7 linked regions of the Homo sapiens genome follow. The protein of the gene in region 6 purifies or fractionates together with the protein of the main gene of each other region. This does not show direct contact. Each region holds a gene or a part of one and is shown on either strand. Other genes may lie near its edges.

Evidence for each region.
Region 1: the proteins of SKP1 (region 6) and ARHGEF6 purify together in Homo sapiens (affinity purification with mass spectrometry; 3 studies listed by BioGRID and IntAct, with this or other methods). This does not show direct contact.
Region 2: the proteins of SKP1 (region 6) and FBXO38 purify together in Homo sapiens (affinity purification with mass spectrometry; 6 studies listed by BioGRID and IntAct, with this or other methods). This does not show direct contact.
Region 3: the proteins of SKP1 (region 6) and MYCBP2 purify together in Homo sapiens (affinity purification with mass spectrometry; 4 studies listed by BioGRID and IntAct, with this or other methods). This does not show direct contact.
Region 4: the proteins of SKP1 (region 6) and ARB2A purify together in Homo sapiens (affinity purification with mass spectrometry; 3 studies listed by BioGRID and IntAct, with this or other methods). This does not show direct contact.
Region 5: the proteins of SKP1 (region 6) and FBXO36 purify together in Homo sapiens (affinity purification with mass spectrometry; 3 studies listed by BioGRID and IntAct, with this or other methods). This does not show direct contact.
Region 7: the proteins of SKP1 (region 6) and ARIH1 purify together in Homo sapiens (affinity purification with mass spectrometry; 4 studies listed by BioGRID and IntAct, with this or other methods). This does not show direct contact.

Annotation. Positions count from the first base shown.
Region 1 is NC_000023.11:136,773,972-136,778,356, reverse strand, and holds part of ARHGEF6 (rho guanine nucleotide exchange factor 6), read left to right. Parts: intron 1-4,385. UniProt on the Homo sapiens protein: Acts as a RAC1 guanine nucleotide exchange factor (GEF).
Region 2 is NC_000005.10:148,435,405-148,439,789, reverse strand, and holds part of FBXO38 (F-box only protein 38), read right to left. Parts: intron 1,459-4,385; coding exon 1,292-1,458; intron 144-1,291; coding exon 1-143. UniProt on the Homo sapiens protein: Substrate recognition component of a SCF (SKP1-CUL1-F-box protein) E3 ubiquitin-protein ligase complex which mediates the ubiquitination and subsequent proteasomal degradation of PDCD1/PD-1, thereby regulating T-cells-mediated immunity.
Region 3 is NC_000013.11:77,046,879-77,051,232, reverse strand, and holds part of MYCBP2 (E3 ubiquitin-protein ligase MYCBP2), read left to right. Parts: intron 1-70; coding exon 71-236; intron 237-4,354. UniProt on the Homo sapiens protein: Atypical E3 ubiquitin-protein ligase which specifically mediates ubiquitination of threonine and serine residues on target proteins, instead of ubiquitinating lysine residues.
Region 4 is NC_000005.10:93,880,533-93,884,917, reverse strand, and holds part of ARB2A (cotranscriptional regulator ARB2A isoform 1 precursor), read left to right. Parts: intron 1-3,229; coding exon 3,230-3,448; intron 3,449-4,385. UniProt on the Homo sapiens protein: Plays a role in the regulation of alternative splicing, by interacting with AGO2 and CHD7. Seems to be required for stabilizing protein-protein interactions at the chromatin-spliceosome interface. May have hydrolase activity.
Region 5 is NC_000002.12:229,925,161-229,929,545, forward strand, and holds part of FBXO36 (F-box only protein 36), read left to right. Parts: intron 1-4,385. UniProt on the Homo sapiens protein: Substrate-recognition component of the SCF (SKP1-CUL1-F-box protein)-type E3 ubiquitin ligase complex.
Region 6 is NC_000005.10:134,162,881-134,167,265, reverse strand, and holds part of SKP1 (S-phase kinase-associated protein 1), read left to right. Parts: intron 1-22; coding exon 23-96; intron 97-4,385. UniProt on the Homo sapiens protein: Essential component of the SCF (SKP1-CUL1-F-box protein) ubiquitin ligase complex, which mediates the ubiquitination of proteins involved in cell cycle progression, signal transduction and transcription.
Region 7 is NC_000015.10:72,564,200-72,568,584, reverse strand, and holds part of ARIH1 (E3 ubiquitin-protein ligase ARIH1), read right to left. Parts: intron 2,023-4,385; coding exon 1,980-2,022; intron 1,480-1,979; coding exon 1,408-1,479; intron 1-1,407. UniProt on the Homo sapiens protein: E3 ubiquitin-protein ligase, which catalyzes ubiquitination of target proteins together with ubiquitin-conjugating enzyme E2 UBE2L3.

The sequences.
Region 1 (4,385 bases), on a different chromosome or scaffold from region 6:
AGTCATATTATCCGTGGACAAATAGTTGTGGTTTAAGCATGGACTGTGGTGCTAAACTTTTTGGGTTCAAATCTCAGTTCTCTCTTACTAGCAGCTTTGTGACCTTGGGCATGTTACTTAACTATGACTCTAGGCCTCAGTCTTCCTACCTACAAAATGGGAATAATAGTGGCACCGAATTCATAGGACTCGTGTGACCTTTTTAAAAAATATTATTTCAATAGTTTGGGAGGAACAGGTAGGTGGTGTTTGGTTACATGGATAAGTTATTCAGTGGTGATTTCTGAGATTTTGGTGCATCCATCACTTGAGCAGTGTACACTGTACCCAATGTAGAGTCTTTTATCCCTCACCCTACTCCCACCCTTCCCCCTGAGTCCCCAGAGCCCATTACATCATTCCTATGCCTTTGCATCCTCATAGCTTAGCTCCCCCTTATAAGTGAGAACATATGATGTTTGGTTTTCCATTCCTGAGTTACTTCCCTTAGAATAATGGTCTCCACCTCCACCCAGGTTGTCGTGAATGCCATTATTTTGTTCCTTCTTATGGCTGAGTAGTATTCCATGGTGTGTGTGTGTGTGTGTGTGTGTGTATGTATACATATTATATATATGTATATTACATTTTCTTTATCCACTCTTTGGCTGATGGGCATTTAGGCTGGGTCCATAACTTTGCAATTGCAAATTGTGCTACTATAAATATGTGTGTGCAAGTGTCCTTTTCATATAGTGACTTCTTTTCCTCTGGGTAGATACTCAGTAGTAGGATTACTGGATCAAATGGTAGTTCTACTTTTACTTCTTTAAGGAATCTCCATACTTAAGGTTTTCCATAGTGGTTGTACTAGTTTACATTCCCACCAGCAGTGTAGAAGTGTTTCCTTTTCACCACATTCATGCCAACATCTAATATTTTTTGTTTTTTTTTTAATTGTGGCCATTTCTGCAGGAGTGAGGTGATATCTCATTGTGGTTTGATTTGCATTTCCAGTGCTTAGTGATGTTGAGCATTTTTTCATATGTTTCTTGGCCATTTGTATATGTTCTTTGAGAATTGTCTATTCATGTCCTTAGCCCACTTTTTGATGGGATTATTTGTTTTTTGTTTTTGTTTTGTTTTGTTTTTTGAGACTGAGTCTCACTCTGTTGCCCAAGCTGGAATGCAGTGGTGTGATCTTGGCTCACTGCAACCTCTACCTCCCTGGTTCCAGCGATTCTCCTGCCTCAGCCTCCTGAGTAGCTGGGAATACAGGCGCCCGCCACCATGCCTGGCTAATTTTTGTGTTGTTAGTAGAGACAGGGTTTCACTATGTTGGCCAGGCTGGTCTCAAACTCCTGACCTCAGGTGATCCGCCCGCCTGGGTCTCCCAAAGTGCTGGGATTACAGGCGTGAGCCACCGCACCCGGCCTATTTGTTTATTTTTATTTCTACTTTATTTATTTATTTATTTATTTATTTATTTATTTATTTATCTATTTATTTATTTTTGCTGATTTGTTTGAGTTCCTTGTCGATTCTGGATATTAGACCTTTGTCAGATGCATAGTTTGGGAATATTTTCTCCCACATTGTGAGTTGTCTGTTTACTCTGCTGATTATTTATTTTGCTGTGCAGAAATTTTTTAGTTTAATTAGGTCCCATCTATTTATCTTTGTTTTTGTTGCCTTTGTTTTTGAGTTCTTGGTCATGAACTCTTTGCCAAAGCCAATACCTAGAAGAGTTTTTCCAATGTTGTCTTCTAGAATTTTTATGATTTCAGGTCTTAGATTTAAGTCCTTGGTCCATCTTGAGTTGATTTTTGTAGAGAGGTGAGAGATGAGAGATGCGGTGAGAGATGAGGATCCAGGTTCATTCTCCTACATGTGGCTTGCCAAATATCCCAGCACCATTTGTTGAATAGGGTGTCCTTTCCCCAGTTTATGTTTTTGTTTGCTTTGTCAAAGACCAGTTGGCTGTAAGTATTGGGCTTTATTTCTGGGTTCTCTATTCTGTGTCATTGGTTTATGTGCCTATTTTTATACCACTACCATGCTATTTTGGTAACTACAGGCTTGTAGTATAGTTTGAAGTCGGGTAATGTGATGCCTCTAGATTTGTTCTTTTTGTTTAATCTTGCTTTGGCTATGTGTGTTCTTTTTGGGTTTCATATGAATTTTAGGATTGTTTTTTCTAGTTCTGTCAAGAATTATTATGGTATTTTGATGGGAATTGCGTTGAATTTGTAGATTGTTTTTAGCAGTATGGTCTTTTTCACAATATTGATTCTACCCATCCATGAGCATGGGATGTGTTTCCATTTGTTTGTGTCATCTATGATTTCTTTCAGCAGTGTTTTGTAGTTTTCCTTGTAGAGATCTTTCACCTCCTGGGTTAGGTATATGCCTAAGTATATTATTTTTTTTGCAGCTGTTGTAAAAGGGGTTGAGTTCTTGATTTGATTCTCAGCTTGGTTGCTGTTGGTGTATAGTAGTGTTACTGACATATTGATTTTGTATCCTGAACTTTACTGAATTCATTTTTCAGATCTAGGAGCTTTTTGGATGAGTCTTTAGGGTTTTCTAGGTATACAATCATATCATCAGCAAACAGTGAGAGTTTGACTTCCTCTTTACCGATTTGGATGCCCCTTATTTCTTTCTTTTGTCTGATTGCTCTGGCTAGGACTTCCAGGACTATGTTGAACAGAAATGGTGAAAGGGGGCATCCTTGTCCAGTTCCAGTTCTCAGGAAGAATGTTTTCATCTTTTCCCTGTTCAATATAATGTTGGCTGTGGGTTTGTCATAGATGGCTTTTATTACCTTAAGGTATGTCCCTTCCATGCTGATTTTGTGGAGGGTTTTAATCATAAAGGGATGCTGGATTTTGTCAAATGCTTTTTCTGCATCTATTGAGATGATCATGTGATTTTTGTTTTTAATTCTGTTTATGTGGTGTATCACATTTATTGACTTGCATGTGTTAAACCAAACCTGCATCCCTGGTATGAAACCCATTTGATCATGGTGTATTATCTTTTTGATATGGTATTGGATTCAGTTACCTAGTATTTTGTTGAGAATTTTTGCATCTATGTTCATCAGGGGTACTGGTCTGTAGTTTTCTTTTTTTGTCATGTCTGTTTCTGGTTTTGGTTTGAGGGTAATACTGGCTTCATAGAATGATTTAGGGAGGATTATCTCTCTCTGTCTTTTGGGATAGTTTTAGAAGGATTGGTACCAATTTTTCTTTGAATGTCTGATAGAATCATGTGACATTTCAAGGAATTCATATATGTAAAGGCCCCAGAAGAGTGCCCGGAATGTAGTAAGTATTCTCTGCATGGTAGATATTATTATTAGCAATGCTGGTAGCTTTGCCCCAGATAAACTTTGCTTCCTTCACCATTTTTCCTAAAGTTAGCCCTAGGACCAGGTTATATCTGTTTCAGAATATTTTATTCCATTTTCCCCTATTGCCTAATTTGCACTCTCTCTCTCAATCTCTGTTTCTTTCTCTCTCTCTATTTATGTGTGGGTCTGTGTGTGTGACTTTTGAGGTAGGTGTGATGGGTGACCACTTTATATCCCTTGTAGAATAATGTCTACTATGGAATTTTCTTTTTTTTTTCTATTATGGTCCAGACTCTTCAGGAAATTTTAAATTTTTCTTTAATAAATACTATGATATTTTCTTTTTTATTCCTTTTTTTTTTTTTTTTTGAGACAGAGTTTTGCTCTGTCACCCAGTCTGGAGTGCAGTGGTGTCATCTCTGCTCACTGCAACCTCTGCCTCCTGGGCTCAAGCAATTCTCATGCCTCAGCCTCTCAAGTAGCTGGGATTACAGGCACGCGCCACCACGCCCGGCTAATTTTTGTATTTTTAGTAGAGACGGAGTTTCACCATGTTGGCCAGGCTGATCTCAAGCTCCTGACCTCAAGTGATCTGCCCACCTTGGCATCCCAAAATGCTGGGATTACAGGCATGAGCCACCACGCCTGGCCAATACTATGGTATTTTTTTTTTTCAAATAAAAACATGGTGAAGTTGCCAATGATTTCTGCATTCTAAAGCTGCCAGAAGGTTTACTTAGCTTCTTTGCAGTTCTAAGAATACTGGATGATACAGAAACACCTTCCAGGTTAGGCATTGTTCAGGATTTTTCTGATAACTAATGCTTACTCCTTTAAGCACCAATGCTTAAAATATTCTTCCACTTTGGATAGAAATATTTATTGTTTAAAAAAATTATGTTTATTACTTTTATTTTTTTATGGGACACTTCACAAATTTTTGTGTTATTCTCGTACAGGGGCCATATGAATATTCTCTGTATCGTTCCAATTTTAGTATATGGGCTGCTGAAGTGAGCACAAGATAGAAATATTTCTAAAATGTATG
Region 2 (4,385 bases), about 14 Mb from region 6:
TTGATGTTTGCTATAGTGTCCATCCAGCTGCGAATGCGCACCTTATTCCGGACATTGGGAGGGTTACTGAATTCATGGATAATACAGATGTGATAGGGGTAGGGACCACTAAATAGCTTCTGCTCCAAAGTTAGAGTGTCCACCTGTGGAAGACATCATAAAGAGATGTCTTCAACAAAGAGAATGCCTTAGAAATCTCTCTCCGAGAGCTTGAACAATCTTTCCATGGACCTTCAGTTTTGAAATCTCTGGCTGATTTGAAAATCAAATAGTCACATTCAGACCTGAAAACAGTCTGTCATGCTGGGAATAATTTTGCAAATTCTTCTGTCTAGGGAACTTGGCAATTTATATCTCACTGTTATATTTAAATGCCTACTAAACCAGAGAATCCTGATTGAGATAAATGACGTCAGTCAACTCAGAATCCACTTCTGTGTATGTCCTTTATTAAGTACTGACTGCATTATAGAACTGTGAATGTGTAGTAACATATACCCTATTCAAATGAGACTGCTGCCCAGTCTTTAAGAGAGAATGCATTTTCTTGTCTTCTAGGAGCCTTTGATAACATTGCTTTTTTCTCATGGCATACCCTCCCCCATCTCTAGTTATGAAATCTCACTCGGCCATCTGCGTGGCATAAGTGTTTGTCTCCTTTTTGGGAAGGCAAACTCCTTGAGGGAAGGATCATGTGTTGTGTTTTTATTTGCACCCAGCATATTTTAAGTTTTGAGACACTTGACAATATGATGAACTGACTCTTTTGAGGCCAGGCTTACACACTGATTACAAAGAGGCATTTAAAATTTCCTTTAAACCCTCTTTTGGCATTAAGCACAGAACCTTATATACAATATACTCTTAATAATGATAATGACACTAACAGTAGTTATATGATGGCTTACTATATACTAGCACATGTTTTAGAGTTTCACATATATTAAATATCACAATAATCCTGGGTATATCATTATTATTCTAATTTTACAGATGAAGAAACTAAGACATCGAAGTCAAATAATCTGCTACAGGTCAGACAGCCAGAAATTTAATCAGGCAGTCTGAACCAGAGACTGTGCTCTTAAACCACAGGTAACTTTTAATAAGTATAAAAACCTGTTGAATAACAACTCCCTATATCATACATAACCTGTAAAAACTAAAATATCATTACTGTAGGTTGGGCAAGTGAATGAATGCCAAATCCAAAAGGCTAAAGACTAACAAGAAAAAGAAAAAGAAAAACACCACAATATGTGTATCATCGGAAAGAAGCAAAGCTCGTTACCTGCTGCATTGGGCGTAGGTATATGATGCGGTTTCTCTCGGGTGGCATTCTTAGTATCTGGTCTAGTACCTGATCCATGTTCAGTTTCTTGCACTGTGCATAGTCAAATCGGTTTACAATTGGTGCATTTTCTACCTTTAAATGTTTTAGTACCCTGCACCTGGTAGCTACAAAATGAAAACAATGGTAAGCTCCGTACATATCATCTTTGGAGAGATGGCCTAATTTTTGTTGGCACAAAATACTGCAGTAACAAACATCTTTAACAGAGGTCAAATAATATCATAGAGTACAAATCACAGTTAACAAAAAAATTTGAAAATGTGGTTCTGTTCAATTCAAAAGAAGGTAGAAGGGGCATTAAAGTGCCTTTTTCTAAGATTTTACTGTTAAGAAAACCAAGTCTCAGAAAATGACTTGCCCAGACAGAAACTGTTTAGGAAATATTTATTTAAAAAATGAGTAACTATTATACATTTTTATAGTCAATAGTCAGACCTGAAATAATTCACCTATGTTACCTTACATTCACTCTCAGGAATGAGCAGAGTTGGATTTTAATTCCTGTCACAAACGTAAAAGTAGAACCTTGAAAAAAAAGACCCAGAAACACATTTGGATACTTTGGTCTAAAGCTATTCAGTCCAATCTAGTAGCCATGTGGTTAGTGGTTACCATAATACTGAACAGTGTAGACACAGAACATTAAAGTTCTATTGAAATGCTCATCTAAAACATGATTAGTTTTTCTGTTTGACATATAAAACATGAAGTCAGAAAAAAGTAATTTTGATATAATAAACACATTTAACTGAACTAGTATATCAACTTCAGAAAAATATTTCCTTCTCTTTTTTTAATCTCCAATTTCAACCTGGTCCAATTTTCACTGCAGATTTCAACCAGGTCCAACTTGAGAGAGATCAAATGGAAAAGATTATAAAACCACAGGCTCATTTGTCTGATCTTAACATTTCACAGACATCTGTAACATCCTTGACCCAAATGTCATCATCGTCTTGTGCAATCTAATGTAACTAACTTGACATTTAAACACTGAGAGAGACTCCCGCCTCTCACGTTCATTTTCTCCTTTTGTGACTTGGTGGAAAGAAGGGGAACTGTTGTTGAGGACAGCAACAGAGGAAAGGAGAGCGCTAGATGACAGTAAGGATCCAGTGGTTCTTAGCTATAAAATCCGACATGACTAAGGTCAGTTCTAATCTCATTTAATCATCTCCGCTGTCATTAACTTAGCCACTACCTACAGACTAAGCTAAGATCCTCTCACCACGATAAGCTGAGCCAAACAATTTGGTTTAAAGGGGAGAAGGTTGGGCCTGAGGCCGTGTGATCCATCATTAGGTTAGAGAAGGTACAGGAGAAATCATCAAAGTAAAAAGAAGAAAACTAGTCAGATTCTCGGAGAGCTCAGAGTAGAGAAAGGAATGGAACGAGATGCCGACTGGCAGAGTCTGAAGATTGAGTTTTACATTCTCAGAGCTCAAAGGGTGTAGGTACTGACAGAATGAAAGTTCTTCCAGTGCTACTGTAAGGCTAGGGTGAGTACCCCTACTGTTACAATCTCTGAGCTTTTGAAGAGCCTGTGTTCTCCACTGTAAAAGGAAACTCCAATAGGAGATAGTAATTTAAGATGTTTTAGGACCAAAGACCACATTGGCTGGGATAGAGAAAAGTACTACTACTTCAGAGTAAACAATAGAGTCTGGGGTCCCCAAGGTCTGAACTTTTGTAGAATTCAGAGGAGAAGTAGTGCTTGAATCTCAGTTTCATCTCTCCTTTCTTGGGTTCTCCTCAGTTTATGACAATATGTTTGGTAAATACCTTTTAATGGGATTTCTTTGTTTACTACTAATATGGTAGGAGATATAAAACAAAATAGACCTCAATATTTTTTGGCAATACAGGTTGACGAACCTTTATCTGAAATGCTTGGGACCAGAAGTGTTTTAGATTTCAGATTTTTCTTCAAATTTTGGAGTATTTGCATTATATACTTACCCTAATCAAAAAAATCTGAAATCTGAAATGCTGCTCCAATGAATATTTCCTTTGAGCATCATGTTAGTGCTCAGAAAGTTTTGAATTTTTAAGCACTTGGGCTTTCTGATTTTTAGATTAGAGATGCTCAACGTGCACTAACATAATACAAATTAACATCACTAGGCATTACTAGAGGTCAGACCCTGTACTGTGTGTGTGGGTGTGTGCATATGTCATGTATATATATACATATACAGGCATTTCTCATTTTATTGCACTTTATTGTGCTTCGCAGACATTACACTGTTTACACAAGGTCTGTGGCAACCATGAATTGAGCATCTACTGGTGCCATTTTTTTAGTAAGCACGTGCTCCCTTTGAGTCTTTGGGTTACACTTTAATAATTCTTGCAGTATTTCAAACTTTTTCATTATTATTTTATCCATTATGGTGGTCTATGATCAATGATCTCTGATGTTACTGTTTTAATTGTGGGGTGCCACAAACTGCACCAATATAAGTGAACTTAATAAATGTTGTGTGTGTCCTGACTGCTCTCCCAACAGGCTGTTCCCCTGTCTCTCTCCCTTTCCTCAGGTCTCCCTACTCCCTGAGATACAATGATGTCGAAATTAGGCCAATTAATAACACTACAATGGCCTCTAAGTGTTCAAGTAAAAGGAAGAGTCACAAATCTCACTGTATTTTTTTATTTATTTTTTTGAGATGGAGTCTTGCTCTGTCGCCCAGACTGGAGTGCAGCTGCGCAGTCTCGGCTCACTGCAAGCCCCGCCTACCGGGTTCATGCCATTCTCCTGCCTCAGCCTCCCTAGTAGCTGGGACTACAGGCACCCGCCACCATGCCCGGCTAATTTTTTGTATTTTTAGTGAGACGGGGTTTCACCATGTTAGCGAGGATGGTCTTGATCTCCTGACCTCGTGATCCGCCCGCCTTGGCCTCCCAAAGTGCTGGGATTACAGGCGTAAAGCACTGCGCCCGGCCACAAATCTCACTTTAAATAAAAATATAGCAATGATTAAGCTTGGTGAGGAAGTCACGTTGAAAGCTGAGATAGGTCAAAAGCTAG
Region 3 (4,354 bases), on a different chromosome or scaffold from region 6:
ATGCCTATCTTAAGTGTGATTGAAATAGTCTCACTATGATCTTGTGTCTGTCTCTTCTCTTTTGCTATAGATGTGTCCCAAACATGGCACAGACTTTTTGGAATATAAATGTCGCTACTGCTGTTCAGTGGCTGTTTTTTTCTGTTTTGGAACAACACATTTTTGTAATGCTTGTCATGATGATTTTCAAAGAATGACTAGCATTCCTAAGGAAGAACTACCACACTGTCCTGCAGGTATGCTTTTAATATTTTAAAATCACGATTATGATCTATATACCATAGTTTTATGTAAACATTATATGAAAGCTCTGTTTCAAGTGACAGAAACTCAATTCAAACTAGCCTAAAGAAGCAGGAGGAATTCCTTGATCCTTGTAAGCTTATGACTTTCTGGGTGAATTAGGAAGCAGGCTCATCATCATGAGTGAGAAGTTAGCTGTGACGGAGCAGATCTCATGGGGAGTGAGAATGAAGTCTACTAAGGATTGGTGAAAAGATGGCTGTTCAGCACTAAAAAGTCATATGAAGTTCAATATTACAGAACCATTTAAAAGGATTCTGTGATTTTTTTTTTTTTTTAACGAAGCCTGGAACCGTTGCCATAAAATGAACCAAGTGATTTAATCTAGAATGGCTGGGAATCAGTAGTGTAGTGAGCATCAGAAAGTCAAGGGAATTAAAGAAACCACTCAGAATACAGGAGAAATTATTGTCTATGGAAAGCAGGCTGAGGGGAAAGAAGTATGAAACCAAAAAGAAGCTGAAAATACTGGAAGAGGACAGGAGGCTAGTGGCAACGGTGAGGTGGAATACCAGGCTTCACGGAAGTGAGAGAAGTGGAAGGAGAGGTCCGTGCAACCATAGGAGAGAATTTTACATAAGATATATCTGAAATTAGTGAAAATACATGCACAAGTACATACAACACAATATACCGTGTTGTCAAAGCTAGAAAACACACACTGCCATCTGCTGCCTATCAGAGTGCAAGTGATAGACCTCTCCGGAAAACAGCTTAATAGTGCCTCTCAAAATTACCAGCGTATCAACCCTTCAGCACTCCCTCTTCAGGGATATAGCTACAAATGTGAGGACAGTAAAAAAGGGCAAATAAACAAGGTTATTAACTACAGCTTTGCTATGATAATAAAAATGTATAAACAATGCTAGTGTCCAGTAGGGTAGTGGCTAATATTACGCATCAGTTTAAAAAAAAAAAAGAGTGAGGATGGTGTTTCTGTGTGCTGATTTGGAAAGATCTTCAGGAGATAGCATCAGATGAAAAAAGTAAATTAGGCCAAGTGGTGTGACTGACACCTGTAATCCCAGCACTATGGGAGACCGAAGCAGGTGGATCACTTGAGGTCAGGAGTACGAGACCAGCCTGGCCAACATGGTGAAACCCCATCTCTACTAAATGTACAAAAATTAGCCAGGCATGGTGGCGGGTACCTGTAATCCGAGCTACTCACGAGGCTGAGGCCAGAGAATCACTTGAGCCTGAGAGGCGGAGGTTGCAGTGAGCCAAGATTGCGCCACTGCACTCCAGCCTGGGCGACAGAGCTGTTTCAAAAAAAAAAAGCAAATTGCAGAACAGAGTATGCAGTATGCTGCCTTTTGTAAGAGGGAAAATGAGACTATCTAGTCATATTTGTTTATATTTACATAAAGAAACCCCTGGAAAGATACTCAAGAAACTAATACTATTGATTAACTATTGGGAAAAGCAAGAAAAAGATGAGGGTAGAGACTAGGGAAAGTTGCTTCCAATTGTGTTATCATTTTTAACATTTTGATTTTAAACCATGTGAAACATATACTATCCATTTCAAAATAAAGATAAGTAGGGTTTTTTCAAGTATGACTACTTTTTACCATTTGCTCATGTCAAATAAAAATTGTTTTACTGTTTCTCCTCAAATACTGTTTTTTTTTAATAGAAGTAGCAGGCTTTGAAAGAAGCAAGGCCAGAATGATGTGAAGCCAGGTTATGGAGGATAATGGACAGAACAGAGATGTGAGCCATGCTTGGAGGGAGGGGGTGATGTGCTGGAGGTCAGCAAGTGAAGGGAGTGTGGAAAGGGCAGTATTCTAGATGACTCTAGATGACTTGAGCTTGGAGGAAGGGCAATTATTGAATGAAAGTTGTAGGTTGTGGTCTGGAAAGAAATAGGAGCCAAGAGAAAAATCAGTCACACGTTGTAGCCATATGACCTGGAGGAGCTTGGGAGATAACCAGCCTCCAGTTGAGAAAGATTTAAGGCAAGCAGTATCTTCAGGGGAAATCTAGATTTTACTTAAAGTTTCCTCTATGTTAAAAAACAGAAATAAGAATGCTAAAAATAAGGAAGTTAACAATGAAACACTTTAGAGAACTCAGTGGTGGGTAGTAGCTGAGAGAGGAGGGTCAGGTTTCCTCACAGGATCAGGGCAGCCAACACAAAGGAATCACAGGAGGGAGGCGGGGGAGGAGCCAGAGTTGGCAGAAGGAAGGAATGACCTCGGTCCTGGGCATTTTCACACATATTTGCTCCATTTTTACAATCTGCGAGTAGATGGTATTATCCCTATGTTATCAAATGGAAAATTGAGGGCTAGGGAGGTTAATGAACTGGCCTAAGAACATACACTGAGATTGAGGTATACTCTCCCAGCCTCACACATCCCTCTAACTCATCCATTCATTTAGAGAACTGGAATAGAATAAAGGAGATCCCACAGGGATGTGAGTAGGGAAGATGGCCATATACAGTTTACTTAGAAGGACAGAAGAAGCAATTCTCTAACCACTCTCAACCCTGTTAATTCTAATATTTTTAGATAATCAGTCTTCATCCATTCAAGCTGCTATAACAAAATACTGTAAACTGGGTAGCTTATAAACAGTGGAAATTTATTCTCACAGTTCTGGAGACCAGGAAGTCTAAGATCTAGGAATTAGCAGTCGAGGTGTCTGGTGAGGACCCACTCTCAGCCTCATAGGTGGCACTTTCTTGCTGTCGTGGAAGGGCAGGGGGCCTCTCCTGGGTCTCATTGATAGGAAGAGCACTAATCCCATTCATGGATTCCACCCCATGACCTCATCACCTCCCACAGCTCCACCTCCTAACACCATAACATTGGTGTTAATGTTGTAGTCTCAGCAGTGCACCAAGATATAACAGTCTCTCATTGTCTGAGATAATGCCAGGAGTTCTTTGTCCTACCTCCAAGAAGATTAAGGAGCACAGATACAAAGGTGAGGTTAGAGCGAAAGTTTAATAAGCAAAAGAAGAAAGCTCTCTGCCAGCAGAGAGGGGGGCCCAAACAGGATGCTCCCGTGAGGCTGGGGCCCAGGGTTTTTATGGACTGGAAAGGGGAAGGAATGTGCTTAGTCTGTGGGCTGTCTTGGCCCGCAGCGTGACTCAGCTTGGCCCGGGACCCTGGCCCAGGAACCCACTGGAGCCCACTGTGCCTATGCCCACAAAAGGAGAGAGCCCCCTGACTATACAAAGGACAAAGGCATTTCTATCCCAGGTCTTGTCCTTTATCTGATTGAAGGTTTTTCTGTCTGTGCAGCCGTGGGCATGTCTTTAGGCACAATGCCCTGTGCTAGTTCCCTCATCGGTGCCTGCAGCTTGACTTTTTTTCCCCAACTGCTTTTTATGTTATATGGGGATGAGGCACTGACCTGTGGACCTGGGGCTCTCTGGGGACCCTTCCCTTGCTATCTACCTAAGGCAAACTAACTCCTTTCATTAACACGTCAGTATATAAATTTGGAGGAGCACAAAAACATCCAGACCATAGCATAATCCCTCTATCCATTTCTTTCTAAAATATTTATTGACTACCTTCTCGTGCCAGGATACTTAATCTTCACAGCACCCCATGAGTTAGGTATTGCTGTGTCTATTTTAAAGATGAGGTATCTAAGAATCAGAAAAAATAATTTTACTTCAGTTTCATATCTACAAAATGAGGATAATCGTTTCTGCCTCCTATGACTGTTAAATGGTTAAGTAGCTGATATACTAGAACAGTGCCTCAGTAGTAAGCACTCAGATGTTTGCAGGTGTGTTTTCACTATTTTTATTTCTCACCACCATGTTGGATTGTGAACACCTTGAAGATGGGAGCCATGCACTTTTCATCTTTAATCCCAAGTACCTAAGAATGCCCTTCATATATTAGGCATGCGGTAAATATTTGTTGAGTAAATGACTCATTTTTTCCTTGAAAAAACCCAAGGGCTGCAGTTTGTGTCACCACCATTGATATGTTGTGTATCTGAACTAGATCTGCCATTGAGTGTCCCCATCCTGCGCACTCTCCCCCACCCACTGGTGGGGTGGGCACCAATCTGCAGTGTG
Region 4 (4,385 bases), about 40 Mb from region 6:
AAGTTTTACTATATATCTGTGGTTAGAGCACATAGGTGGGATAGTTAACTTTATTTTCTTACTCCTGCTTTCTGCTACTCATTACAAAATGGTTATGAATGATCTCTGTGAATATTGCATTAATTAATTTAACAGAAATATTTTAATTTTAAATGTTAGTTTTTTTACAGAACAGTAATTGAATTTGCAACAAAGATATTTATTAAAATCCACTCTCATTTCTACAGAGAATGTTCCTGAGTATTTCTTGATTGTTGTCACATTAATTAAATTGGCAATCTGAAATATCTAAAGGATAAAATATTTTCTAAATAGTTTGGGTGTTTAAATAGAAGCATCCATTGTTGAAATCTAAATGATAACAAATCTTCAATTGATTTATATAGTGGTGATTTAAAAATAGAATCATTTCTCATCTGTTGATGCCTAAGGGAAACATTGACATTGTGCCTTTATGATATTGAACAGATGAGTCATGTAATTTTCAGTTACTTAGACAAATACTGCTTCTTTGATGATATATAAATGCCTTTTTTAAAATACTTATTTACATGGAACATATCAAATTTCAGAGTCTTATTTCAAATTAAGTAGGCACGATAATTTTTCAATCTATGATTTCTAAAAATTGAAGTTTAAAGTTCTGCTCAAATAAGCCAGATATGAAAATATTATTTTTTTGATTAAGTAATAAGATAATAGTCTTACAATTCTGGTGACTGTAAATTTTGTTCAAAGAGTTTACCTTTATTTGAGATTTATTCATTATACAAAGATGATGCCATGTTATTTCAGCTTATTAAAGTCCCACTCTTTTACCTTGAGTGAAGTTTTTGAATTTGAAATTTTTCATATTATCATTAAAATGTAGTATATCACTATTTTCATCTCTACTAATTTTAAGATTCTATTTTGGTCTTGCTAATTTTAACTCCTGAGTATGAGAGGGTGGTGTGTGTGTGTGTGTGTGTGTGTGTGTGTGTGTGTGTGTGTATGTGTATGTGTATGTGTGTATGTGTGTTTAAAGTTCAATTCACTCAGAGAAGGCAAGGAAGAAACATGACAGGAGACCACTTACTCACGGTACAGAATCTAGTAGGGAGGCAATTTTCTTTTTGGCCTATGGTGACCTTTTTTGACTATGTTCCTTACACCAGAGACAGTGTACTGAATGCCTCTATTTCACCCTGTTTAGCAGAGTGCAACAGTGTTCTTTAACTTACTTTTGGTGGGAGGAGAAGTTATAGCTGAAATTTGAGAAGGGCGTGAAAAGTTGTAAGAGGCACAAGGAAGAGGGGTAGGAACTTCCTTCAAATGTGATTTTAATAACTAGTCAAGTGTGTCCAACTGTAGAAAATCACCAAGTGACAATCTGTCTACCTGACAGTGATCACAATGAATTACAAGACTTTTGAATAGCTATACAGATTAGAATAAAGCAGGACCAAATAAAATATCTTTTGTTGGTAAAACTTTTGACTTAGAGCTAAGAAACTTTAAAAAAAATTCTCTTTTGCTTTGATGTAGAAAGTTTAAATTACAGAATGTGTAAAGTGTTTTATAAGCTTTTTGTGAAAGAAGCATTATTCTAAAAGCTTTATTTGAACATCTGTTGAAGAATGGGTGGTGGTTTGTAAATCAGTTTGCTATATATTATTATATAGTTTCCATATATGTAAGATGACTGTATCTTAATTAATAGTCCTATCATTAAAATCAGAACTTCAGTGATCTTGAAAATTTCCAAACTAAATAATCGTTTTAGACAATAATATCATCTGATGGAGGAAAAAATAGAAAACAATTCCAAAGAAGTTTGTAAGTAGTTTGTGAAATCAACTGTTTAAAAAAACCAACCATGTGCAGTAATGCAGCATATTTTAAAATAAGATAATTGAGTCTGTGCTATTACTGGTTTACTATTACTGCTGTCAATTTTTTAAAATCATCTTATGGTTGGTTTGGCAAAAAATTTAAAATTTAAACTTCAAGTAGAAGATTCTACAGTTACTGTCTTGAAAAACTATATATACTACCTATTTTAAGTAAGGATGAGATTTTATAAGTTTTATTTTCTATTAAATAGATTTTCTAATAAATAGATTTTGTGAGCTATTTTCTGTAGCTCTTATGTTTTTATTATAATATCATACATCTTTTAAATATGACCTTATAGTATTTTACAAGGACATAATTGGAACCTCACAACACATAACTGAATAGAAAAGACAAGATATATAATAGCTTCAAAAATTTGTGTTACCCATGCTTGTCAATGGTTATTGTTTATCCCTCTCTATATTTTCTCATGGTTAGCTTATTCCATTAGACATAATATAAATATCAAACGTTTTCTTAATTATAACCACAGAAATGTTTGCCAGGCTAGAAAGAAATGAGACAGGAAAACATGTTTTACAAATTTAAAAAAAAAAAAGCCTTAATAGCTCAACAAGCTGTATTTTTTAACTTTGGAACCTTGCTTATTTCCTGATTATAGTTTTTAATAAAGAGAATTTTTATGGTAGGTTGAAAAATGAAAGAAATTTTAAGATTAAAGACTTGCTTCCATACATTATAGTAAGACAGTGGCTTATTTTGCTACATGATTTTTCTGGCCTCCTGTGAGAAACAAAGTGAATAAAATTCAAGGTACACAAGTAGATGTTATGTCTTTATAATAATGTAGGTATGGATGGTTTTGTAATGTTAAATCAGATTTATTCTTTTTTAACTGCTTATTCTTTTTAATTGTTCAGACAAATAAAAAATGCTCTTGAAAGGGCCATTGTAAAGAAAAATATACAAAAAAATGTAGTTTGAATTGTAAACTTTGATTTCAGAGGTTGTTTTCTCAAAACAGATAGTATAAATATTAATATAATTTGAAAGTTTACTTGAAAATAAATTATTTGCTAATTTATTTCAGTCATTTTTGGGTTCTGAGATATCTGAATTAGTTTTTTAATTTAAGCTTTATAATCTTTATGTTGCAATTATATTTTTTGTTCTTATAAATAATAAAAGCTTATTTATATACACAATAAAGGCAAACAATTTTAAATGACTTTCTTTTGAAAAAAATAAAATCATTATCTTGCCTAAAGGAGTATTTTAATGAATATGCAACTATATAAAAATTGCTTAGACTGAAATTTTAAGAACTTTTTTGAAAATTGAAATGGATTATAAGATTTAAATTATGCTACCTTCTTTCATTTCAAAACAGGAAGGATATGGAGTAATAGTACTAAATCCCAATGAAAACTATATTGAAGTAGAAAAGCCGAAGATACACGTACAGTCATCATCTGATAGTTCAGATGAACCAGCAGAAAAACGGGAAAGAAAAGATAAAGTTTCTAAAGAAACAAAGAAGCGACGTGATTTCTATGAGAAGTATCGTAACCCCCAAAGAGAAAAAGAAATGATGCAATTGTATATCAGAGTGAGTGAGATCACTACTTTCCTTTACTATTTTCTTTACCTTGTATATATTTTATTATATGTAGATTGTTTTGTTTTTCTTCAAGAATATTAATTTTTTTATTTGTCATCATTTATTTCCCATAGTCGTCTACTTGGATTAAATGGGTTTTTAAATTCAGAATTACAAAACGCATCATTCTTATTTCAGTGTGACATTTTATAGAAGTCACAAATGCAAATTCTGTTTCCTTTTGTGTCATATACTACCTCAAGAAAAATTTTCTAAAATAATTTTATTGTGATGGATGCAGAAGGCAGAAAACTTGCCAATTCAGTTTCCAAACACGCTGTTTCTTTAAGGAAACATAGCATCAGCATAACATGCCGTTATGTTGTCCATAAGAGAGAGTATATGTAGCCTCACAATTCTAAGACATATCACCTGCTGAATTAATAATGCTCCATACAAAACATTCATCTTGGGGGGTAAGGTTTACTGGATAATGCATTGTTTTACGATGAGCAACTATCTACAGTGTCTCAGCCTAATGTCTAAAGGCAGATAGAGGGAGGAAGAGTAATTAATATCTTAATAAATACTTAAGCCAAAATAGTGTAGGGATAGTGTAATGAGGGAACTCTGTCCTTTTCTCTTGTCCTACCCAGCGAACTTTTACACTTTGTAGTACTAACGGTATGGGATCATTAGAGCAGTGTTGCCCAAGGATTTCTAATTCTGTAGGGGGCACAAACAATTTTGTTTACACTTGGACATATTCAGAATGTTGACATGCATACTATAAATTATATATATGAGACATTTGTCAATTTTCAAAGCCCTTATTATGGATGCTAGAAGTTTAATAGTAAAGCATGTCGAAAATGCTACGGGTTAAGAAAAATAGTATATTGAAATAGTCCTCAAAAGTGAGCAATTCAGAACATTTAAACACAGA
Region 5 (4,385 bases), on a different chromosome or scaffold from region 6:
CAGGTTCTGTCAGTTACATATATATAAAATCCTAAATTCTGATCCATTTTCTTTTTTAAGCATGCTGAATAAATCCACTACACTTCTACCAGTGAGAGTTAATCTCCAAGCTAATTAATTCACCCTCTTTTTAAAGTAAAATTTGTTGTAAAAAATGGCATGCCAAAAAAATATACTTTTCAGTCAACTGCCTTGAGAATATGCTATTTTCTAACCACAAGACAATTTTTCTGAGTCTCAGCACAGGAAACCAAACATCCAGTAAGAGGTGGCCTGACATAAATAAGTACTAAAAGACTAGCATTAAAATATGTTTTATAAGATAGATTTTTTTTCTGGAATGACTTTCTAAAATTATTTCTTGTACATTTCCTCCCCTTTCTCCTGTCTTTATTTTTTTAATGTTGTATATTATCCAAATTATGCCCCAGATTTAGATGAATCCTTCTTTCATGCTGATTCTGTTTTTTAGTCTCTTTTTCACTGCATCTTTTTCGTTGGCCTTAAATCCAAATAACTGCACATTTGACATGGATTTGAGGGCAGATATTTCTCTCATTAGTGTCATACCACCACTGACATAGTCCAGAATATAAATGTTATACATAAACATTTTCTTTGTTTATATAGTAACATTTGAAATATACTGTATGCTTATACAGGCACTTCTCTTTTACTGCTTGATACCATGTTGTTTTGGGTCTTGGGAGAGGGGTTTTATTCAAATAAATAACTTTTGGATTACAGCTTGGGGTCAGTTTAGTTTCTCGAAGCTGATCTTTATAATGATGATCTCCAGCTTTAGAAAAAATAGTGCGCTGCTTTCTAAATCAAAGATTCACTCAAGGGTTGGGCACAGTGGCTCAAACCTGTAATCCCAGAATTTTGGGAGGCTCAGGTGGGAGGATTGCTTGAACTAAGGAGTTTCAGACCAGCCTGGGCAACATAGCAAGACCCCTTCTCTTAAAAAAAAAAAAAAAAAAAAGGGGGGGCTGAGCACAGCTCATGCCTGTAATCTCAGCACTTTGGGAGGCCGACACAGGCAGATCACTTGAGGCCATGAGCTCGAGACCAGCCTGGCCAACATGGCAAAACCCCATCTCTACTAAAAATACAAAAAATTAGCTGGGCATGGTGATGCACGCCTGTAGTCCTAGCTACTCGGGAGGCTGAGGCAGGAGAATCGCTTGAACCCTGGAAGCAAAGGTTGCAGTGAGCTGAGATCACACCACTGCTCTCCAGCCTGGGCAACAAAGCAAGACTCAGTCTTTAAAATAAATAAATAAATAAATAAGATTTACTTGGCCAGGTGTGGTGGCTCACACCTGTAATTCCAGCATTTTGGGAGCCTGACGGGTGGATCACTTGAGGTCAGGAATTCAACACCAGCCTGGCCAACATGGTAAAACCCTGTCTCTACTAAAAATAAAAAAATTAGCTGGGCATGGTAGCATGAGCCTGTAATCCCAGCCACTGGGTAGGCTGAGGCAGGAGAATCACTTGAACCCAGGAGACAAAGGTTGCAGTGAGCCGAGATCTCACCACTGGGCAACAGAGTGAGACCCCATCTCAAAAACAAAAAAAAAAATACTGTTATTCTTACTCTAGCTCTAGTAGTTTACATATATTTTCTTATATTGGATTCTAATTCTTTGAAAACCAGTAGATTAATAAAGTGTTAGGGGTGGAAAGGATCTTTGTTTTTTTTTTGTTTTTGCAACAAGAGCCTCACTCTGTCATCCAGGCTGGAGTGCAGTGGGGTGATCTCGGCTCACTGCAACCTCCACCTTCTGGGTTGAAGTGATTCTCCTGCCTCAGCCTCCTGAGTACCTGGGATTACAGGCACCCGCCACCATGCCCAGCTAATTTTTGTATTTTTAGTAGGGATGGGGTTTCACCATGTTGGCCAGGCTGATCTTGAACTCCTGGCCTCAAGTGATCTGCCCGCCTTGGCCTCCCAAAGTTCTGGGATTACAGGGGTGAGACACCAAACCTGGCCAGGGCTAGAAAGAATCTTGAATATTATTTAGTTTGTACTTTCATGACACATATATATTCCTATTTATAGTGGGGAGAATGTAGCTAGTATTTGATTTGTAAAAACACTTTAATGACTAATCTTTTATATGTTGTATTTTTTTTTAACTCCAAAGGAAGTTCATGACCAATTGGCAAGTTAATGAGTGCAGGTGTTTTAAAATCTATGAGTTTAGAAGAAGCAAAAAATCACTTTATTCTAAGTGGTCCAGGAGGGTACTGTTACCAGTATTGTACTCTTGAAATGTTGTCTTCTTTGTCCTCTCAAAATGGAAGTGTTGCTTAGGTGGCCAGAACAGTTAACTTAGGTTTAATGTGACAAATACTGGAAAAGTGTTAGAAAGAGAATAATGGTATGCTAAGTAGATGGGAACTGGCAGATACGGCCTCTTGCAGCCAATAACCCAGGTGGTTGTCCGAAGAGCACCAATATGTTATAGTTAACTCCAGCAGATGAAAGAAGGAAGAATTGGGCAATAGATTCGTCTTGTTTTATCTCTTTTTCTAAATCCTATCCAAAGCTCCAAAAAGATATATGAAGCTAGTGTCATTTGAAAAAAAAAAAAAAATGAAAAAGCTCACCCCTCTAAAAAAAATGGCAATTATTTTTGAAGTGCATTAGAGTTGTGGCACTAAAGACTGAAAACACCTGAGGTTGCATGCCAGCCTGTGACAGGAAGCTGTCATCTCAATGACTTCTGACAAAAGAATTAAACTAGACTTGGTGATGGCTGGGCGAGAGACAACAAAAAATTGAGCTAGTGCCATTTCATACTGCAGACCAATTTTGAAGATTTAAAATGTAAATGCAGTCTAATAAAAATGTTAATGCACACACCCTTTGACCCAGCAAATCCATTTCTAGGATTTGGATATCCAAAAATGCTATCACATGTGCACAAGGATATGTGAGCAAGATTATTGACCAAAGTCAATAATTGTAAAAACATTTTTCCATGAGAGGAAATGTGGTTAAACTGTGATTCATTCATGCCATAGAATACTATCCAACTTTTCAAAAACAATGCGGTGGATCTCTGTTTACTCAGTAGACCAAATAAAATCTTTAGCAAGAAAAGCAAGTTGCTGGATTAAACATAGCATATCCTACTTTTTTAAAAAAGTGTTTTAAATAAATGTTAGTGAGGTTTTAAATAATTCTTAAAAGAAAAAGCTGGAATGATGCACTCTTAAGAGTTACAGATTTTTACTCTCCGCATTCATATTTCTGGAAGATCTGAATTTTCTACCATGAGCATTTATTTTTATAATCAGAGAAAAGCAATAAAGATTTAAAATGAAAGTGTAAATGGATAACTGTTACTTTGAGGTGGTGTCCTGCCTGTATTCCCCCTATTGGGCCAGCACCACCTTTCACCCACCTCCCTCATTGAATATTGAGGCTGAATATTGAATATTGAATATTGAATAGCTTTGATAGCTGTGTCCCAAACTCCTGCTGTTTTTGTGGAAGGAAAATAATTCTAATTCTACAGTTTTAGAGTGCAAATTGATTAATGATTAATTTTGCAATTTTCCTTGCAAAATTTTAAGGAGGATTTTTGGTGTTTTTGTTTGTTTTAGAGGCAGAATCTCATTCTGTCCCCCAGGCTGGTGTGTAGTGGTGCAGTCAGCTCACTGCAGCCTCAAACTCCTGGGCTCAAGCAATCCTTGCGCCTCTGTGTCCCAAAGTGCTGGGATTACAAGCATGAATTTCTGTACCCATCCTTAAGGAGGATTTAGTGTCTAGAAACTTCTGACCTTTTTTTCTTTTCATTTTTTTTTTTTCTTTTCTGAGACAGAGTCTTGCTCTGTCACCCAGGCTGGAGTGCAGTGGCATGATCTTGGCTCACTGCCTCCCAAGTAGCTGGGACTAAAGGCATGTACCACCCCGCCCGGCTAATTTTTGTATTTTTATTAGAGATGGGGTTTCACCATGTTTGCCAGACTGGTCTCAAACTCCTGACCTCAAGTAATCCGCCCGCCTCAACCTCCCAAAGTGCTGGGATTACAGGCGTGAGCCACTGCACCCGGCCTCTTTTTCTTTTTAATATAAGTAATAATTACCTTTGAGAAACTAAAGGAGCTGGGTATGGTAGCTCACACCTGTAATCCCAGAACTTTGGGAGCCTGAGGCAGGCAGATCACAAGGTCAGGAGATCAAGACCATCCCGGCCAACATGGTGAAACCCCGTCTCTACTAAAAAAAAATAGAAAAATTAGCCAGGCGTGGGAGCGGGCGCCTATAGTCCCAGCTACTGGGGAGGCTGAGGCAGGAGAATGGCTTGAACCTGGGAGGCGAAGCTTGCAGTGAGCTGAGATCAGGACACTGCACTCCAGCCTGGGCA
Region 6 (4,385 bases):
AACTTTCTTCTGGTTTTCTTAGATTTGGGAATGGATGATGAAGGAGATGATGACCCAGTTCCTCTACCAAATGTGAATGCAGCAATATTAAAAAAGGTAAGGTCTTTAAAGAGTTTAAGTTTATTCTGCTTAATATATAACACCAATTGATTAATACAAGTAATTCAACAATCTATGTTAGAATTTTATAATTTACTGCTTAAAATTACATTTAAATTTGAATGTTCTTAAACACTTACTTGAGTGATGTTTGTATGTTCTTAAAATATACAGAAAAAAGTTCTGTCTGCTTTCTTGCCACAGTTGACTATTGTCATTTATTGGGCATCTGTACTGTGTCTACCTATGCAAACACTTCCCTAGGAAGGATGATCTACATGTAGAATATCTGGATCGCAGGTTGGCTTATATACCTAAATTTTGATAGATACTGTTAAATAGTCTTCTGTAAAGATACCACTTCTAGAGCATGGTGGAATTGAATCGTGACTGTCTTTCTTAGATTTATAATTTTGAAACGGCTAAAGTCAAAGGAATATGTAACACTTTGTTCCCATTTCTGTCCTTATCTATTCCAGTCCCCTTTCAGGTAGCAATTTATCCTTTCAGTATTTTGTAATACAGGTATTAACAAGTAAGTATATTTTTTTCCCACATTCTTTTTTTTTTTTTTTTTTTTTTTTTTGAGACCAGAGTCTTGCTCTGTCGCCAGGTTGGAGGGTAGTGGTATGATCTCGGCTCACTGCAACCTCTGCCTCCTGGGTTCAGGTGATTCTCCTGCCTCAGCCTCCTGAGTAGCTGGGACTACAGGCACACGCCACCATGCCCAGCTAATTTTTGTATTTTTAGTAGAGACAGGGTTTCACCATGTTGGCCAGGATGGTTTTGATCTCTTGACCTCATGATCTGCCCACCTCAGCCTCGCAAAGTGCTGGGATCACAGGTGTGAGCCACCGCGCCCAGCATTCTCCCCCATTCTTAAGGTAGCAAACTATACATTTCTATGTTTTTTTTTTTCCATATAACAAAATGAAAGGTGATATGTCTATGTTAGTTAATATATAGCATCTTTTTTTTTTTTGAGATGGAGCCTCGCCCTGTTGCCCAGGCTGGAGTGCAGTGGTGTGATCTCAGCTCACTGCAGCCTCTGCCTTCCGGGTTCAAGTAATTTTCCCTGCCTCAGCCTCCCGAATAGCTAGGATTACAGATGCCCACCACCACACTGGCTAATTTTTATATTAGACAGGTTTTCACCATGTTGGCCAGGCTGGTCTCCAACTCCTGACCTCAGACGATCTCCCTGCCTTGGCCTCCCAAAGTGCTGGGATTACAGGTGGAGCCACCATGCCTGGCTAACCTGAATTTTTTTGTGTTTGTTTGTTTTTTTGATCTCACTCTGTTGCCCAGGCTGGAGAGCAGTGGCACAATCTCGGCTCACTGCAGCCTCCACTTTCCAGGTTCAAGCAATTCTCCTGCCTCAGCCTCCCAAGTAGCTGGGATTACAGGCACTCGCCACCACGCCTGGCTAATTTTTGTATTTTTTAGTAGAGATGGGGTTTCACCATGTTGGTCAGGCTGGTCTTGAATTCCTGACCTTGTGATCTGCCCACCTTGGCCTCCCAAAGTGCTGGGATTACAGGCATGAGCCACCGAGCCTGGCATTTTTTTTTTTTTTTTTTTGAGACAGACACTCTGTCGCCCAGGCTGGAGTGCAGTGGCACGATCTCAGCTCACTGCAACCTCTGCCTCTTGGGTTCAAGTGATTCTCCCGCCTCATCCTCTCGAGTAGCTGGGATTACAGACACCCGCTACCATGCCCAGCTAATTTTTTTATTTTTGTAGAGATGAGGGTTTCACCATGTTGGCCAGGCTGGTCTTGAACTCCTCACCTCAGGCGATCTGCCTGCTTTGGCCTCCCAAAGTGTGAATGTTTTTACATGTGTTACTGGCCATTTACATTTTCTGCATTGTCTGTTTTCATTTCTCTGTTTTCCTAATGGTCTTAGAAAAATAGTGATAAAATATACATAACATTGATCATTTTCACTTTTTGAACGTGCACCATTCAGTGACATTAATTACATTCACAGTGTTGTGCAGCTATCACCACTAAGCATTTTCAGAACTTTATCATCCCACACTGAAACTCTGTACCCATTAAACTGTAACTTCCAATTTCGGTACACCCTCCCCCCTCAAAAAAAAAATTGGTACACCCTCCCCCCTCAAAAAAAAAAATTACGCTAGGTAAACACTATTCTACTTTCTGTATCTGAATTTAGCTATCCTGGATACATAATATATGGAATCATACAATATTAGTCCTTTTGTATCTGGCTTATTTCACTTAGCATAATGTTTTCAAGGTTCATCCATGTTGTTGTCTAATGAGCTTAAAAAATTGTGGTAAAATACACATAACAAAATTTACCACCTTAACCATTTTTAAGTGACAATTCAGTGGTATTATCTAATAGGCTTTTTATAAGAACTCTTTAAAAGTTTCTACCAGTTTGCTTGTCTTACGTTAATTCATGTTACGATTTAGAGGCTTTATTTTATCTAGTTAGATCTCATTCTTTATGACTTCTGAATATGTCTTGCAATTAACGTATTCTATTTTATACTAATGAAAAATGTTTCTAAAAGGATCTTTGCTTGTAGTCGAATGCCTGGTACATTCAAATGCCATCCAAAAGCTGGGGGTATAGCAGTGAACCAAAGAGACAAAATCTCTGCCCTTATGGAGTTTATGGTCTGAAGGGGTGGGGAATATGCAACATTAGAAATACATCAAATGGAAAAACTATGGAGAATAAAGAAGGGAATGGGGAATTTAAAGGGGTGAGTAGGTGAACAGTTAGCTGTTTTTAAAATAAAGATGGTCAGGAGATGTCTTACTGAGAAGATAATCTTTTTTTTTTTTTTTTTTTTTTTTTTTTTCTTGAGATGGAGTTTTGCTCTTGTTGCCCAGGCTGGAGTACAGTGGCACAACTTTGGCTCACTGCAGCCTCTGCCTCCGGGCTTTAAGCAGTTCTCCTGCTTCAGCCTCAGTAGCTGGGATTACAGGCGCGCGCCACCACGCCCGGCTAATTTTTTGTATTTTGAGTAGAGATGGGGTTTCACCATGTTGGCCAGGCTGGTCTCGAACTCCGGACCTCAGGTGATCCGCCTGCCTCAGTCTCTCAAAGTGCTGGGATTACAGGCTTGAGTCACCATCCCTGGCCGAAGATAATCTTTTAAACAAAGACGTGAATATTTGGGGGAAAAGAATTCTGGGATTTGGGAGCAAGTACAGTGACCTTAAGACAAGAGCATGCCCTGCCTTTTTAGGAAAGGCAAGGAGTTTAGTGGAAGCTAGAGCAAGAAGTGAGTAGATAAGGTCAGAGTTAAAGGGTTGGGTGATGTAGGGCCACTTCTGAGAATGAGAAGTGCTTGGTTTTTGGGGTTTTTTTGTTTGTTTGGTTTGTTTGTTTGAGATAGGGCCTCACTGTGTTGCCTGGGCTGGAGTGCAGTGGTGCAGTCATGGGTCACTGCACCTTCTACCTCCCGGGTTCAGGTGATCTTCTCACCTCAGCCTCCCGAGTAGCTGGGAGTACAAGCACATGCCACCACACTTGGCAAATTTTTGTATTTTTTGTAGAGATGGAGTTTCACCATGTTGCCGAGGCTAGTCCGGAACTCCTGGGCTCAAGCGATCTGTCTCCTTTGGCCTCCCAGAGTGCTGGGATTATAGGTGTGGGCCACCACACCCAGCCGAGAAGTTTTTTTTTTTTTTAAGCCTGTTTGTATTGAATATATATCATATTTTGAAGAATAATTACATGATGCCAAAACTATGGAAGTACAATAAAATCTCCTTTCCCTGTCTCTTATCTGATTGGAAACTGCTCCCCCCACAAAGTAATGTGGCATTTTTTTGTTTTTCTTTTTTACTGGCACCACCCGTTGTGAACCTAGGCATTAGTTTCTTTATATATCCTTTTAAGAGTTTTTTATTTTTAAATTTTTATTTTTTGTTAGTAGTGATAGTGATTTTTTTTTTTTTTTTTTGACAGAATCGCACTCTCTTGCTCAGGCTGGAGTGCAGTGGCACGATCATGGCTCACTACAGCCTCAGCCTCCTGGGCTCAAGTGATTCTCTTGCCTCAGCCTTCTGAGTAGCTGGGACCATAGGTGTGCACCACCAGTCCCATCTCATTTTTGTATTTTTCATAGAGACAGGGTTTCACCATGTTACCCAGGCTGGTCTCAAACTTCTGGGCTCAAGTAAGTCACCCACCTTGGCCTCCCAAAGTGCTAGGATTACAGGTGTGAGCCACAGTGCCCAGCCTATTATTATTATCATCATTTTTTGTAGAGACGGGGTGTCTCTATATTGCCCA
Region 7 (4,385 bases), on a different chromosome or scaffold from region 6:
ACTCTTCAGTTTTCTCTCAAAAATACTGAGCAGCTAAATTTGTTTTACAAATTGCCATTCTTCCTTGGTAATCTACAATCTAAACTAAGCCAAACATATTCAAGCCTGTACTCCCTATTTTAAACATCTTTGGGGCTTACAAGTAGGAATTTCTCTAGATGTAGAAAAAAGGCTACCATTTAATTAAACAATTTAGTGAAAATATAATTGCCTTATTCTAAATATTAGTTTTTCAGAGCATATTAAAGAATTCTGGGACTTAAGGAACATTTCTTGTGGGAAAATCTTCAATTTTCAAAAAAAGAATGCTTGGCTAAGAATTTTTTTTTAATAACAAAACAAGTAACCACTTTCTGACATTACAGTATATTTATAGTAAGGTTTTCTTTGATTGACGTGAGTTATGCTTATCGTGATGGTTTTGGAGGGAACAAAAAATATTAATTTCTACCATATATTCCTTAAAGACTTGGGCATTTGTTTTATGTGGCAAGATTCACTGTTTCACTACTTTCTGGGAGACAGAAATATAAATTCATGTTTTATATATAAGTATGTAAGATGTATATTTAAACACACACAGACAACCTGCGTCGGCCTTCATTGTTTACACACTTCTTAATCTCATTGTCCTGTGATGACTGAGGCAACAGTTCAAAGATAGCTTTATATACTATGGGTCAAACAACTCAGCATTCTTTAAAGCATCATCTTTACATGTACAAAATAATACTAAAAATGAATAGCCCATGAACCAACCTACCATTCATTACCCAAGTCACTCACTATGGGGATAGGATAGGACTGAATTACATAAAGGATGGATAATACGACTTTGTATTAAAAGACTAGCTGGGTACACGGTTGGCATTCAAATGCTTGCTCATTAGATTAGTGATCGAGGAGAAGGGTACTCAAGATTTAAACACTTCTAAGACATTTGTCTGGGGTTAAGAAAGTGAATTTTGAAATTGAATTTTGAAACTAGTATCAAGAGCAATGTACTTCAAAACAAAAAATTAGAAACAAAAATGTAAATTAGCCTAACAGAACCAAGCTAGGCGGAGTAAACTCCAATGCATTTGTATACTAAATGGCAGCCAAGCACAAATCCCACACTTGAAAAATTATCAGCTTTTTCCTCTACAGAACACTAATTTTTTTTCCAGTAGAAGAAACCTAAGGCAGAGAACTGTGGATGCTGTACTACAGTACTCAATACTCTAAAATAAACTCAAAGAGAAAAAGGAAATAACAGGCAAACATTCTGGGAAAAAAAAAAAAAGACTCAATGGAGAAAAAGATGAAACAAAGCCTGTAAGTAGGTCACCTCATTGCTTTTGCTAATGCCAAAGTACCAATCCTTATCATTTTTATTACCAAGAGTTACTGAAGGAAAACACCAACCTTTGTGTTGGCTGCAATCCAATTGGAGGTTTCACTGTCATCATCACACTTTTTAATCCATTTCTTTAACCACTGTTTGAAAATAACAACGGTTAGGATACAACAAAAGACTTTTAAAAATAGCAAATTACTTTAGCACTTAACTATAGTCAAGCTTAAATGTAAAAGCCAATGAATAAGATTATCACTAGGCTCACATCCTCTTAAGCCAGGGAAATCCCATAGCTACAATGTCCAGTATATATAAAATCAACCAAAGCAGGATTTTCTTTGGCAGAAGCTGAGTGGGGAACCTAGAGCTTGAAGAGAAGCCCAACTGCAAGGTGTGTATTCCCCTAATTACAAAGCCTGACAAAGAGGTGCCTTAGCCATGGTTATCCTAATAACAATCAGGAGCTGACTTGGCTTATCCTAAGGAATTACCTCTGAATACATGTAATGATCATCTGAAATTAAAAGGATAAAAAAAAATCTATCAATAGATAGATAACAAAATCATCAGCTATGATTTTTAGTCACTAAGTCTTAGAAGTGTGCCATTATTTAAAAATTGAAATGTCAGACAAACTCACCTTACATTTAACAGGATCATGCCAATTTTCTCCACAGTTAAAGCTGTTAAGTGACACAAAGAGTTAATAGAATTAAGGCCTACCTACTGTAAGCAAGTAAATAAGCCAATCATTTCATGCCTTATAGTTCCACAGTATTGTCACTAGTTTCTAGTGACTGGCAAATACAAGGAGAGAACCCATGTCTGCTTTACAGTTAATTACCTAGAATTTAGTAGTAGAACTAGCACATAGTGGGTACTCAATATGTGTGAAGAATGACTATAAGCATGAAGACACGCTTTGATGACAATTTCATAATAATTGTTGCTAAGGTGCCTCAGACTATATTGAGAAGTTTCAACCCATGCTTCATCAGTGCATTTTTAATCTTTTACTTAACACCCTAAATGAAGAATAAAAGGCTGACTTTGTAGGTTACTTATATAATTTAGTACTAATACACAGTAAACAATATATGGGAAGCAAATAGGTCACATCTTTGCATTATTTAAACAAATGAACCTCCGCCCTGTAGAGGGAAATGGTACTGGGCAAGGTATAAAACAAAAAGACTAAATACTCACTAAACATGTGTTAATCAGTAATTCACTTTTGTTTTCTAAGTTCATGACATATACACTTGTAAAAGAAGTATAATTAACAAACACAAATGCTTAAGAAAAAAATAATAAAATGACAGATTAATTAGCTAATTAAGTAATTTACGAATGGCAAAAAGTCCTTTGCTAAAGACAGAAACAAACTACTATTGATTTAAATCAGGTTAAGATAAATGGTTATTTCTGAAAAGAAAGATGGGGAATGGGAAGGAGCAGGGAACCAAGGAGCTTCAAATATATGTGTCATGTTTTATCTCTTAATGAAGAAAAACAAAATACTAATTTTGATTTAACTGGATTGTAGCTATATAGGTATTCACTGCTGTATTCTCTATACTTTTATGTTTGAAATGTGTCACGCTAAAAATACATTGGAAAGTAGGTATTATCCACCTTTTCTCTAAAATAACAATACATAATTAATCTTTATCGAAACAGTATGTATTTTACACATACTTAATCTCTGTGAGCTTACCTGCTCTTTTTGGAAATATTTATTATTAATGATGTGTTAAGTGTAATTCTATAGATGTTTGGAGGAAAAAAAGAAAGGTATGGAATACCAATAAAATATTTCCCCCTCCAAACCACCCCGCAGCAAAAAAGAAAATCTGGCTGGCCATGGTGCTTCTCACCTGTAATCCCAGCACTTAGGGAGGGCCGAGGCAGGTGGATTACTTGAGGCCAGGAGTTCAAGACCAGCCTGGCCAACAAGGTGAAATGCTGTCTCTATTAAAAATAAATACATAAATAAATAAACAAATAAATAAATAAATAAAAATTAGCCAGGCGTGGTGGCACACGCCTGTAATCCCAGCTACTCAAGAGGCACAAGAATCACTTGAACCTGAGAAGCAAAGGTTACAGTGCGAGATCGTGCCACTGCACTCCAGCCTGGGTGATGGAGTGAGACCCTCTCTCAAAACAAAACAAAACAAAAAATCTATTTGCTGGGTCTAGAGCCCCTTGACTTGATTGGCTTCTTACTCCTCAAGACCCTCAAAGGAACAGAAAATCATCTTAACTTCTAGCAGGATATAAATGTTTGTGTCCCCCTAAAATGTGTATGTTAAAACTTAATAACCAATGTGACAGTATTAGGATGTGGAGCCTTTAGGAGGTGAATGGAATTGGCATCCTTTTTAAAAAAAAAAGGGGCCCAGAGAGCTGCCTTGTCCTTTCCACCATATGAGGACCCAGCAAGTAGGCACCATCTATGAACCAGAAAAGCAGGCCCTCGCCAGACAACAAATCTTTTGGCACCTTGATCTTGGACTTCTCACCCTTAAGAACTGTAAGAAATAAATTTATGTTGTTTAGAAGCCGCCCAGTTTATGGTCTTTTGTTATAAAAGCCTGAACATTAAGACAGAAAATGGTACCAAGAAGTGAGGGTGCTGTTCTAACAAAACCAAAAATGTGAAAGCCGATTTGAAACTAGGTAGTAAGTAGAGGCTGGAAGAGCTTGGAAGTGCAAGCTAGAAAAAGCCTAGATCACTGTGAATGAACTGAATTGTTAAGGGTAATTCTGGTGAGGATTCAGAAAGACAGAAGTGCAGGGAATGCCTCAATCATAGAGAAAACCTAAATAAATGGCCATGAACAGAATGTTGTTAGAAATATGGACAGTAAAGGCCATTATGATGAGGTCTCAGATGAAAATGAGGAACATGCTGTTAGAAACTAGAGGAAAGGCCATCCTTGCTATAAAGTGGCAAAGAAGTTGGCTGAATTGTTTTGTGGAAGGTAGAGAAATGAAACTGAATATCTGGTTGAGGAAATTACTAAGCAAAGTGTTGAAGACG